Linked DNA regions of Homo sapiens. The protein of the gene in region 1 interacts with the protein of each later gene in a pairwise test. Each region holds a gene or a part of one and is shown in the gene's direction. Other genes may lie near its edges. The genes, in order: GSTK1, FAM9B and CCNDBP1.

What was found.
Region 2: the proteins of GSTK1 (region 1) and FAM9B interact in binary tests that used the Homo sapiens proteins (3 or more experiments, as listed by UniProt).
Region 3: the proteins of GSTK1 (region 1) and CCNDBP1 interact in binary tests that used the Homo sapiens proteins (3 or more experiments, as listed by UniProt).

Annotation. Positions count from the first base shown.
Region 1 is NC_000007.14:143,261,030-143,264,778, forward strand, and holds the start of GSTK1 (glutathione S-transferase kappa 1), read left to right. Parts: upstream 1-2,411; 5' UTR 2,412-2,484; coding exon 2,485-2,556; intron 2,557-3,056; coding exon 3,057-3,138; intron 3,139-3,518; coding exon 3,519-3,647; intron 3,648-3,749. UniProt on the Homo sapiens protein: Glutathione S-transferase that catalyzes the conjugation of glutathione to exogenous and endogenous compounds. Significant glutathione conjugating activity is found only with the model substrate, 1-chloro-2,4-dinitrobenzene (CDNB).
Region 2 is NC_000023.11:9,032,228-9,035,976, reverse strand, and holds the start of FAM9B (protein FAM9B), read left to right. Parts: upstream 1-1,849; 5' UTR 1,850-2,125; intron 2,126-2,693; exon of another isoform or gene 2,694-2,855; coding exon of another isoform or gene 2,856-2,990; coding exon 2,991-3,018; intron 3,019-3,515; coding exon 3,516-3,636; intron 3,637-3,749. UniProt on the Homo sapiens protein: May play a role in meiosis.
Region 3 is NC_000015.10:43,188,254-43,192,002, forward strand, and holds part of CCNDBP1 (cyclin-D1-binding protein 1), read left to right. Parts: intron 1-940; exon of another isoform or gene 941-945; coding exon 946-1,027; intron 1,028-1,801; coding exon 1,802-1,898; intron 1,899-2,071; coding exon 2,072-2,145; intron 2,146-2,712; coding exon 2,713-2,789; intron 2,790-3,141; coding exon 3,142-3,422; intron 3,423-3,749. UniProt on the Homo sapiens protein: May negatively regulate cell cycle progression. May act at least in part via inhibition of the cyclin-D1/CDK4 complex, thereby preventing phosphorylation of RB1 and blocking E2F-dependent transcription.

The DNA of each region.
Region 1 (3,749 bases):
GTAGTCCCTGCTACTCAGGAGGCCAAGGTGGGAGAATTGCTTGAGCTTGGGGGGCAGAGGTTGCAGTGAGCCAAAATTGAACCACTGCACTTCAGTCTGAGCGAGAGTGAGATCATGTCTCAAAAAAAACAAGGTGGGCTGTGGTGGCTCACATTTGTAATCCCAGCACTTTGGAAGGCCAAAATGGGTGGATCACCTGAGGTCAGGAGTTCAAGACCAGGCTGGCCAACATAGTGAAAGCCCATCTCTACCAAAAACACACAAAAAATTAGCTGGGCGTGGTGGTGGGCACCTGTAATCCCAGCTACTTGGGAGGCTGAGGCAGAGAGAATTGCTTGAACCCAGGAGGCAGAGGTTGCAGTGAGCTGCAATTGTGCTACTGCACTCCAGCCTGGGCAACAGAACAAGACTCCATCTCAAAAAAAAAAAAAGTTTAGTTTCAGTGGTTGTTGAACAATTAGTTTACTCTGCAAGTAGGTAATGATAACATCATTTTTCATTCCATTTTGCATGCTCTTCTCCATGTAGGGGTTTACCTCGTATCTCTGTATTCTGATAGCCTGGAGTTGTTTTCCTTATTGATACAAATGAAAAGTGGAATCTTTATATGTTTTCCAATTTATTAAATTAGTAATGTTAAAAATAATTTTAACAAAGTTAAATGGAATTATTTTAAAATTCTGTTTCTTTGCAGTAAATGTAATCCCAATATAAGACAATATGACTCACATATTTGTGAAAACGAATAGGGCCAATCGTTTCCATTATCACCAAAATTATCTATAGTGAGGCCTCTCCATCTTCTACCAGTCCCTCTTTTTTTTCACTCACTCAAAATATATGTATCGATGGTCAAATGTGTCCCAGACATTGTGCAAATCTCTGACAAAGGTAACACAAGAAAATGTGTACTCTGAGAACTTCTTATTCTGCCCCAGTTTAGGAGATTCATGCAACTGCCAAGCAACAATAATAAGAGCTAGCAGTTATTGGAGTACCTCATTCCTCACAACTCGTCATAAGGCAGGTGTTATCATTAGATATTCCCCATGTGTATGCAGGATGAGGAAATAGGTTCAGAGAGGTCAAGTGGCTCACCCAAGGGGCACAGCTAAGTGAAAGGCACTGCAGGCATCTCAAACTACCCCCTTCCCACAAGACTCCACTGCAGAGCAGGACAGTCACCCTGACACCAGCCCAATGGGTTCATCTTGCCCATTACCCAGATGGGGCTAATTTATCAAGACAAGGGAATTGCAATAGAGAAAGAGTTTAATACACATAGAGCCAGCTAAACAGGAGACCAGAGTTTTATTATTACTCAAATTAGCCTCCCAAAATTCGGAGGCAGAGGCTAGGGGACTTTGTGGGTTTTTTTGTTTTTGTTTTTGTTTTTCTTTTGAGAGGGAGTCTTGCTATGTCACCCAGGCTGGAGTGCAGTGGCATGATCTCGGCTCACTGCAACCTCTGCCTCCCGGATTCAAGCAATTCTCCTGACTCAGCCCCCCGAGTAACTGGGATTACAGGCACATGCCACCATGCCCGGCTAATTTTTGCATTTTTAGTAGAGACAGGGTTTCACCATGTGGGCCAGAGTGGTCTTGAACTCCTGACCTCAAGTGATCCACCCACCTCAGCCTCCCAAAGTGCTGGGATTACAGGCGTGAGCCACCATGCCCGCCGGCTAGAGTTTTTTAATGATAGTTTGATGGGCAAGGGGCTAGAGAATGGGTGCTGCTAATTGGTTGGGGATGCAATCACAGGGGTGTGGAAAACCGTCCTCAGTGCACCGAGTTGCATTTGGATGCGGGCCACAGAGGAGTCACTGGTCCAGGTGGAGTCATCCTGTCATTAGAAATGGAAAAGTCTGAGAAGGTATCTTCAAAGGCCAGTCTTAGGTTCTACAAAAGTGGTTATTTACAGGAATAATTGGGGAAGTTGCAGAGCTTGTGACCTCTGGAACAATGTCTGGTAATTGTTAATGCCTACATCTTAGCAGAATTCAGGCCCCTCTCATAATCCTAAACTTGTGGACTTTTATTAGTTTTATAAAACTGGTTTAGTTTGGGGAAGGGCTATTATCATTTAAACTATAAACTAAATTTCTCCCTATATTAGCTCGTCCCATGCTCAGGAATGACCAAGGGCAGTTTGGAGGTTAAAGGCACGATGGAGTTGGTGAGTTCAGATCTGTTTCACCTTCGTAATTTTCTCACTGTTAAAATTTTTGCAAAGGCGATTGCAGCGCCCCTTGTCCACACCTGCGCGCTCCCCAAGGGGTCCCTACCCACCCCGCCCCTGGCTGGGGGCCGTAGGCTGGCCCTGCCCCGCTGCGCCGGAGGTGGACCTCTACCAGGGCAGTTTCTCTCTGAGGCTGCGCGCTAAGGCGGTGGGCGGTCCCAGGCAGGCCCAGAAGCTGGGCAGCCTCTGCCGGGTTCCGGGAAAAGGAGCTCCTGCTGCCACTGCTCTTCCGGAGCCTGCAGCATGGGGCCCCTGCCGCGCACCGTGGAGCTCTTCTATGACGTGCTGTCCCCCTACTCCTGGCTGGGCTTCGAGGTGACGCTGGGAGGGGTCGCCTCGGCAGTGTCTGGGGAGTGAGGGCGGAGGGAAGAGTGAGCGCAGGGCTCCGGGACAGAGGTCTCGTGTAACTCCTGGCGCCGCCCAAGGGGTTAAGGCAAGCAGGGAGAGCTCCGGGGCTGAAGGTCACTTTGTGCTTTTAAACGGAATAGAGTCGCTGGCTCCAACCCGAGCCTTTATATCCCGACTGCAGTTTCCCACGGTGGTGGAAAGAGGGGCGGCTCCAAACATTCAGGGAGAAATGCAGAACACGGCCACCTCTTAGCCCAACGATGGCAGTTTTGGGGAAAACTGGCCACAGGAGCGAAGATCCTGGAATAGATTTCTAGTAGTGAGGAGAGTTTTGCCAATTTCAAACCAAACAATGTAGGGTGTCCGCATAACCCCTGCTCTGCACTTAGCGCCTCCCTTCCCTTTCCCTCGGCTCTTTCACTTTTCCATCTTGCACACTGGCAATCGTTCTTGACCTCTGCCCGCAGATCCTGTGCCGGTATCAGAATATCTGGAACATCAACCTGCAGTTGCGGCCCAGCCTCATAACAGGGATCATGAAAGACAGTGGTAGGAAGGGAGGGTCGGGGCAGGGGTGATCTCAGTGGCCCAAGAGAGCCGACCCCAGCGGGTCCTTATATTGGCACTGGCAGCCAGAAAGCTGCCCTCTGCCCCGTCTCTACTAAAAATACAAAATTAGCCGGGCGTGGTAGTGCATGCCTGTATACCACAGCTACTCGGGAGGCTGAGGCGGGAGAATCGCTTGAACCCAGGAGGCGGAGGTTGCGGTGAGCTGAGATCGCACCATTGCACTCCAGCCTGGGCAACAAGAGCGAAACAACAAGAGAAAAAAAAGGAAGCTGCCCTCTGCCCAAAACCCACGTCGAGGTCCCCAAACCTGGGACCCTTAGGTCTTTTCTCACTTAGCGTGCCCAACCTTCTCCTGGCAGGAAACAAGCCTCCAGGTCTGCTTCCCCGCAAAGGACTATACATGGCAAATGACTTAAAGCTCCTGAGACACCATCTCCAGATTCCCATCCACTTCCCCAAGGATTTCTTGTCTGTGATGCTTGAAAAAGGTGAAGAGAGTGGGATGTAGACAGGGTATCCAGTGAAAAACACAGAAGTCGGAGATTGAGGGATTGATAGGATGGAGGGGCTGCGGGAGACTAAAGCAAGTG
Region 2 (3,749 bases), on another chromosome or scaffold:
GTGTGATGTTCCCCTTCCTGTGTCCATGTGTTCTCATTGTTCAATTCCCAGCTATGAGTGAGAACATGCGGTGTTTGGTTTTTTGTCCTTGCGATAGTTTGCTGAGAATGAAGTCTTTCTAATTTTTTAATCTTTTGGGAAACTGTAGGTAGAATAGAAGATAGTAGTGGCCAAGGAAGTACTATAGGATGTGGTGAGGGTTCATTGGTTGAAAGTGAAAGAAAATGCTCACTCTACTGCCAAGAGAGCAATTTAAGATACTATGCCTGTATCCAAGACAATACATTTGTATTTGGTCTCTCCTGGACAGACGGAGCTTAAACTCTCATATCACTGTTCATTTTCATTGATTGTTTTGCTTTTATTTTCTACGGTTTTGGGTTTAGGCACATTGATGCTGTGTTAAGCACAAAATGATTCATGTGAGATTGTCAGAGTAGATTGTGCCCTTCTCTTGTTCAGTGTACTCTGCCTTTAGTTTATTCATTTATTTTTTGCATTATTTTACATTCATGAGATATCAATTCTCAGATCCATATTTTCCTTTTCTTCATATTTTTCTGATATGTACTTTTTGTATCATTTTGTTTAATTCCATTCTTACATACAGCATATACTTAGGTTTTTATTTTGATCCAAGTTGGAAGTCATTTCCTTTAGAATGCGAGTTTATCTCATTCATATTTCTTGCTCAACAGATTCACTTGGCCTTAATTCTGTTCTTTTATGTTATGTTATGGTCTCTGTAGTATTTTCTTTATTTTCCAACTTTTACTACAGGATTTGTATGCTTTGTGTGTGCTCTTTTTGGTTATATAGGCATTTAAGGCTGTGGATTAGTTTTCCTGATGACTGCCTTTATAATTTCAATAGTATAATGAAACTCTGTATCTTGATTTACAAACTTTAGGCAATATTTATTCACTCCCAACTCCGAAACAACTCTCTCCCTATTACAGGGGATCGGAGGTGGGAAAAAGCTGAGTTAACGATAAGTATTAAGGCATTAATTTGTGGGTGAAGGTTGTGGCATATGTCTGGATAAGTCTGGAGTATGAAGGTTTGTGGGCAAGTCTGGGGCATGAGGATGAGAAAGAAAAGTAGTGAGGAAACAAAAAAGGTTATGGGCTGGGCACGGTGGCTCACGCCTGTAATCCCAGCACTTTGGGAGGCCAAGGCATGCGGATCAACTGAGGTCAGGAGTTCGAGACCAGCCTGGACAACATGGTGAAACCCTGTCTCTACCGAATATGCAATAATAATAATAACAACAACAACAACAACAACAACAACAACAACAACAACAACAGGGCGTGGTGTTGGGCTCCTGTAATCCCAGCTCCTCGGGAGGCTGAGGCAGGAGAATCGCTGGAACCTGGGAAGGGGAGATTGCAGTGAGCTGAGATCTTGCCACTGCACTCCAGCCTGGGCAATAGAGTGAGACTCAGTCTCAAAAACCAACAAACACAAACGATAAAAGCACAATCCATTGATTAAAAAGGACGCAGCTGGGCATGTTGGAAGCACACAGGGCATGGGAGGGAGCCTGGGCTCCACCCACAGGGTGATGGCCATTCTAGCCAAAGGGGCAGGGGTGGCTGGAACAAGCCCCAGGGCGAGGTTCTAGGCCCTGTCCACTTGGCCTCCATCCCAAGTCCTTGTGTCTCTCCCCAGGAGGAGAAGCTGAAAGATTGTGGGGACAGAGGCCCCAAAGGGCCACCCCCACCCCAGTCCACAGCAACCACGGGCTGTCACTTAGGGGAAGGGTGAGGGCGTGCCAGCAGGGGGCCTGGCCCCACACAGCCCGTCACACGCATGTGCACTGAGCCGACCAATCAGCGAGGAGCGCAGGAAGTCCTGCCTGCAGCTCTCACGAGAACTGAGGACCCGTTTTCTTTACTTTTCTTTTTTTTTGTTTTTTTGTTTTGTTTTTTTTGGGACGGAGTCTGGCTCTTGCTGCCTAGGCTGCAGTGCAGTGGTGTGATCTGGGCTCACTGCAACCTCCGCCTCCTGGGTTCAAGCAATTCTCCTGCCTCAGCTTCCTGAGAGGACCCGTTTTCTAAGAGGTCCTAGTGGTGCCGCTGCCTGCAGGTTCTTTGAGGGCGCCACATCAGGGGTCCCTCAGGTGAAGCACTCGTGGTGGGGAGGCGGGAACGCAGGCACGAGGCCCTCTGGGAACCAGGGTGTGAAGCGCTGGGCAGCCCGCCGACCTGTGAGGAAATGGCCCCAGCGTCGTCGCCTGGGGCCTGGGTCAGGGCGAGGCCCTGAGGGTGGGCTAGGGTGGGCTGGGGTGGGCCAGGGCAGGGAGGGAGCTGGAGCTGCCTGGGTGATCCCTAGGGCCCGGGAGGGTCCTGGGGGCTTGTGCATGTGTTGGGGGGAGGGGCCGAGGGGGGGAGAAGTGGGAGTGAGGCGGGGGTGTTGTGGGGGACAGTCTGAGTGGGGCCCTCCTGCCTGGCCGCCCGACAGGACAGGACACTTGGGGTCACCGGGGGTCACCGGGGGTCCCCTGTGCGTCCAGGGGGGCGAGTGGCAGTGCAGCCCCTGACATTCCCCTAGAGGTGGCTGGGGAGATCCTGTGTCACCCAGCGGCCCTCCCAGCCACATGGGGTCGCTAGGTGACTCAGAGGTAGGGCTGAGTTCTGTCCCAAAAGGGCGGCGAGGATCCCGCAGAGGCCGTGGAGTTCAGGTGTGAGGGGCAGCTGTGAGCTTTGCAGCCAGCCCCGGGGACGGGCTGGACGGGCCAGGACAGGAGGGGACACTGGCATCTTTTCCGTCCCTTCCTGCTCCCACATGAGACCCAGGGCGGGCCAGCCCCACCCTTCTTGAACCTGTGATCCCAATGGCTTTCCTTTCCGATGCCAGGTTTCCTTAGCTTCCTTAGTGTGTCTTTGCGCTCACCAGGTTCGGGGATCGCCTCTAGCTTCCCAGGACAACCAGCCACGGATCCTGTGGGCAGGAGGGCTGCCAAGGCCCAGTTGGAGGCTCAATTTATGGCGGCCTGGGGGAAGAAGCATGCAGGTAAATACAGCCCAAGGGGACCCAGAAGAAGGTGCACGCCCAAGAGGACGGTCTGTCTGCTTTCTGCGCTGGGGGCACAGGGGCAGCCCGAGGCCCCAGGCCCCTTCGTGGCTCTGGAGTCCATTGTGCACGTGCTAAGATGCGCCAGGTTTTCAAAGCAGGCTCAAGGGCCTTAGGCTTCCCCGTGGAAGGCTCCCCCTCATAGCAGGGTTACAGATGCTCTCAGAGCAGCTCTTCTCCATGGGTGCAGTCCTGACATCCAAGGGGTCTGAACTGTAGTACGTTGTTTACTGGAACCTGAACCCGAAGGGCTTCCAAAAGTCCCTCGATAAAATGGTCAGGAACCGGTGATTCCATGTATAGCTCTGCTTTAAAGCTTTAATTGGCAGAGAGCCCCCCCCCCCCAAAAAAGTCTACAACTAGTACATTTCTCCACAAAAAATGTCCACAGCAGCATCTTCCTCTAAAAAAGGTTTGTCTTTTACATTTTAATGCAGGAAAGGATCCAGTCCGTGATGAATGTGAGGAAAGAAACCGTTTTACAGAAACAAGGGAGGAAGATGTAACTGATGAGCATGGGGAAAGAGAACCTTTTGCTGAAACAGATGAACACACGGGGTAAAGTGTTTAAGTCACTTTTGCCTGTCGGATAGGGTCTTTTAGGAAAAGTCAGCTTTGGACCATGTCATCACTGTTCTATTCTATGCAGAACATTTCACATAAGACATTTC
Region 3 (3,749 bases), on another chromosome or scaffold:
GAAGGAAAATAGTTAACATGGAGCATTGTCGAGTCCATGCTAGTTACCTTTAGTTACATATTCTGATTCTGTTAAAAAAAGAGAGAGACCTGGTTAATGGTTTAATAACCATGGTCTGTCAGTTGGTCTGTCTGTCTCTCTCCCTCCCTCTCTTTTCTGTAAAGGGCCAGTTAGTAAATATTTTAGATTTTGTAACCAACTACCCAACTCTGCCCTTATAGAGCAAACACAACTACAGACATTAAAACCAGTGAGTATGGCTGTGTCCCAATACACTTCATTTCCAAAAACAGGCAGTGGGGCCTGACTTGGCCTGAGGACCACAGTTTGCCAGCTCCTGGTCTAAGATATCATGAATATCTTGGGATACAGAGTATCAGGAATAAGTTTTTTCCTGCTGTTTCTTAATGGTTTATTGAGTTGTCAGCCCAATATCTACTATATAGCTAACTCCTCCCTGGTATGTGATGAGTATAGTAGGCCTGCCTTCATACCAGGACTTCAGAAAATGTTTGATGATGCTGTAGAAATATCTGCCCTAGGCCGGGTGCAGTGGCTTACACCTGTAATCTCAGCACTTTGGGAGGCCAAGGGAGGTGGATCACCTGAGGTCAGGAGTTCGAGACCAGTGTGGCCAGTGTGGCAAAACCCCATCTCTACTAAAAATACAAAAAATTAGCTGGGTGTGGTGGCGGGTGCCTGTAATCCCAGCTACTTGGGAGGCTGAGGCAGGAGAACTGCTTGAACCTGGGAGGTGGAGGTTGCAGTGAGCCAAGATTGCGCCATTGCACTCCAGCCTGGGTGACAGAGTGAGACTCTGTCTCAAAAAAAAAAAAAAAAAAAAAAAAAAAGAAAAAGAAAGAAAAGAAAAAGAAAAGAAATATCTGCTCTATTCCACAGCAGAAGGGTTGACCACTTTGATCTAATCTGTTTCCTTTTTCATAGGAAACCCAGAAGTTCTGTGAACAAGTCCATGCTGCCATCAAGGCATTTATTGCAGTGTACTATTTGCTTCCAAAGGATCAGGGTAAGCCACATAAGTGTTGCATTTATCGTGTAGATCTTTGCTAATATTGTGGATTATGTCTTGTGACTTTTACCTTTACCCAACTTGAACATGTAACTTTCTCCCATAAAATACAGTGAAGGATAATTTTGTAATGTAAGTGACTTATATAAACAAGCCATTATTCTAAGATACAGATGCTTTGTTCCTATGACTTCCCATCTCCCCTGCCTTGCCTGACTCATAAGGCTTTTAATTCTCACAGCCTTCTCCCTCTTCAACCCGTTTTAACACCACAGATACTGGCTGGCTCTCAGCCCCATATGCAGGCTCAGGCCATCCTTACTTTCCTCCACCCATGTTATATCTCACCCTATTTCTGAACATCTGCATAGGTTAAATGGCCTCCAGCCCTGCCTGTAGAATCATGCATTGATTATAATCATGCCAAAATTATAACTGAATACATGTCATGGATCTTCAGGGTTACTCAAGTGGCTTAAACTTCAAGTGTTTCATCTACAGTTGTTAAGAGATCACGGTCCTTAATGAATGAATACATGGTGTCACGGAAAGATTTTGTTCCAAATCTCTTTTGAAGAAAACACTAAGGAATGGCAGGAGGGGCAAGAAAATGCCATGGGGATATAAGTAAGACCTGAGTTTTGTGTTAGCATGTAGGTTAAAGCATGTGGGTGTACATTACCTTATAGTTCTGTAATGCTTAGACTCAGGAAAGCAGATGGTGCTTCTGAAAAGAACACCAGGTTGCTTATTCTTTGGGTTTGGCCACAGGGATCACCCTGAGAAAGCTGGTACGGGGCGCCACCCTGGACATCGTGGATGGCATGGCTCAGCTCATGGAAGTACTTTCCGTCACTCCAACTCAGAGGTAGTGATGCCACAGTTTAGGTTACCAGTTATTGGGGTTCCTTGCCTCAGAGGGGAAAAGCTCATTTTAACAGCAAAGTTACTGACAGCTGAGAGTAATGACCAGCAGGAAGAAGCTTTTTAGGAGACAGGAACCTAGGTTATTAATATATCCTTACTGATTTCTTTCCCCAGCCCTGAGAACAATGACCTTATTTCCTACAACAGTGTCTGGGTTGCGTGCCAGCAGATGCCTCAGATACCAAGAGGTGAGTGAAAGTGGGCAGTGGGCCATGTCTGCTGGCCAAAGCAAAGAGACCTCATGTCTAGCTTCCAGCTTTGTAACATGTATTTGAATTTATATAAACAGTCTAGTGAAATATATATATTTTATTAATGAAATTAATAGGTAGGTATTAATACTTTTTGTCATTCTCTAGTTATCATACTTCTAAATTCCACTCCCCCTTGCTGTGGCTGTCTCTTGTTGAACAAGTATGGTTTGTTTTCCTAGTCCTACCCCAAGAGTAGTATTATGGAGCACACTGAAGCAGTTATGAGGTAGAGACAGCTAGGCCAAAACAGTGGTTGTCCAAGAGGACCATGATGATAAACATCATGTGACCATTTTATTTCTTCTTGTGAATAAAATACAAGCTTTTTAAACCCCTATCTAGATACCAGGGGATGTAGTGAGAATTTTTTATTAAACCCGCACCCTTGTCAACCGTCCTTGGCACTCCCATCAATAGGAACAATGTGATTGTTCCTTGCAGTCATAAGAAAATTGTTGGATTTCTCCTCTAATTCTAGTGCTTCTGATTTTTCACTCATAGATAACAAAGCTGCAGCTCTTTTGATGCTGACCAAGAATGTGGATTTTGTGAAGGATGCACATGAAGAAATGGAGCAGGTGAGGGGACCTCCATCATTGGAAGGCAACTCCTTGACTAGTAGATGAGAATTAATTATAAAGAGAGATTTCCTGAGCATTGACCAGATAGGTCCCATTCTCACTACTGTCCTCTGTCTTCCATCTCCCACTGCTTGTTAGTGTTTGATTTAGTACCACTCCTCTGTGTTCCCTTACTGGACAAGGAGAGCGAGAACAGGGTTTATGAAGTGATTCAACTCTGTAGCCCTTAGTGAAGTGGCTGGCTAAGATTTTTGGACAACTAAGACATCGTGGTAAAAGTATAATAATAGGCCTCGCCTTTTTTTTTTTTTTTTTTTTTTGCATTCACATACATCATGGTATGTCTTAGGCTGTGGAAGAATGTGACCCTTACTCTGGCCTCTTGAATGATACTGAGGAGAACAACTCTGACAACCACAATCATGAGGATGATGTGTTGGGGTTTCCCAGCAATCAGGACTTGTATTGGTCAGAGGACGATCAAGAGCTCATAATCCCATGCCTTGCGCTGGTGAGAGCATCCAAAGCCTGCCTGAAGAAAATTCGGATGTTAGTGGCAGAGAATGGGAAGAAGGATCAGGTGGCACAGCTGGATGACATTGTGGATATTTCTGATGAAATCAGCCCTAGGTAAGCGGGATCCCCACTTGAAACATCTGAGCAGCAGCGTTCTGATTTCAATTTGTGTTGTCACCTCAAGGTTTTCACAGTTTTTTTATATTTTGAAATTTTTCAAACCTATAGGAAAGTTTAAAAAGTACCTTCAGTGAACACCCCTATATCCTTCTATTAGATTTGCCTGTTGTTCACATTTTTTCCTATATTGGTTTATTTCTCAAGAGATACTGTTTCATATTTATTCCAGAATGTTTTGAGAGTAAATTGCAGACAGCAATGACATTTCACCCCTAAATACTTCAGTATGTATCTCCTGAAGTACTCTTATTCCTACTCTTA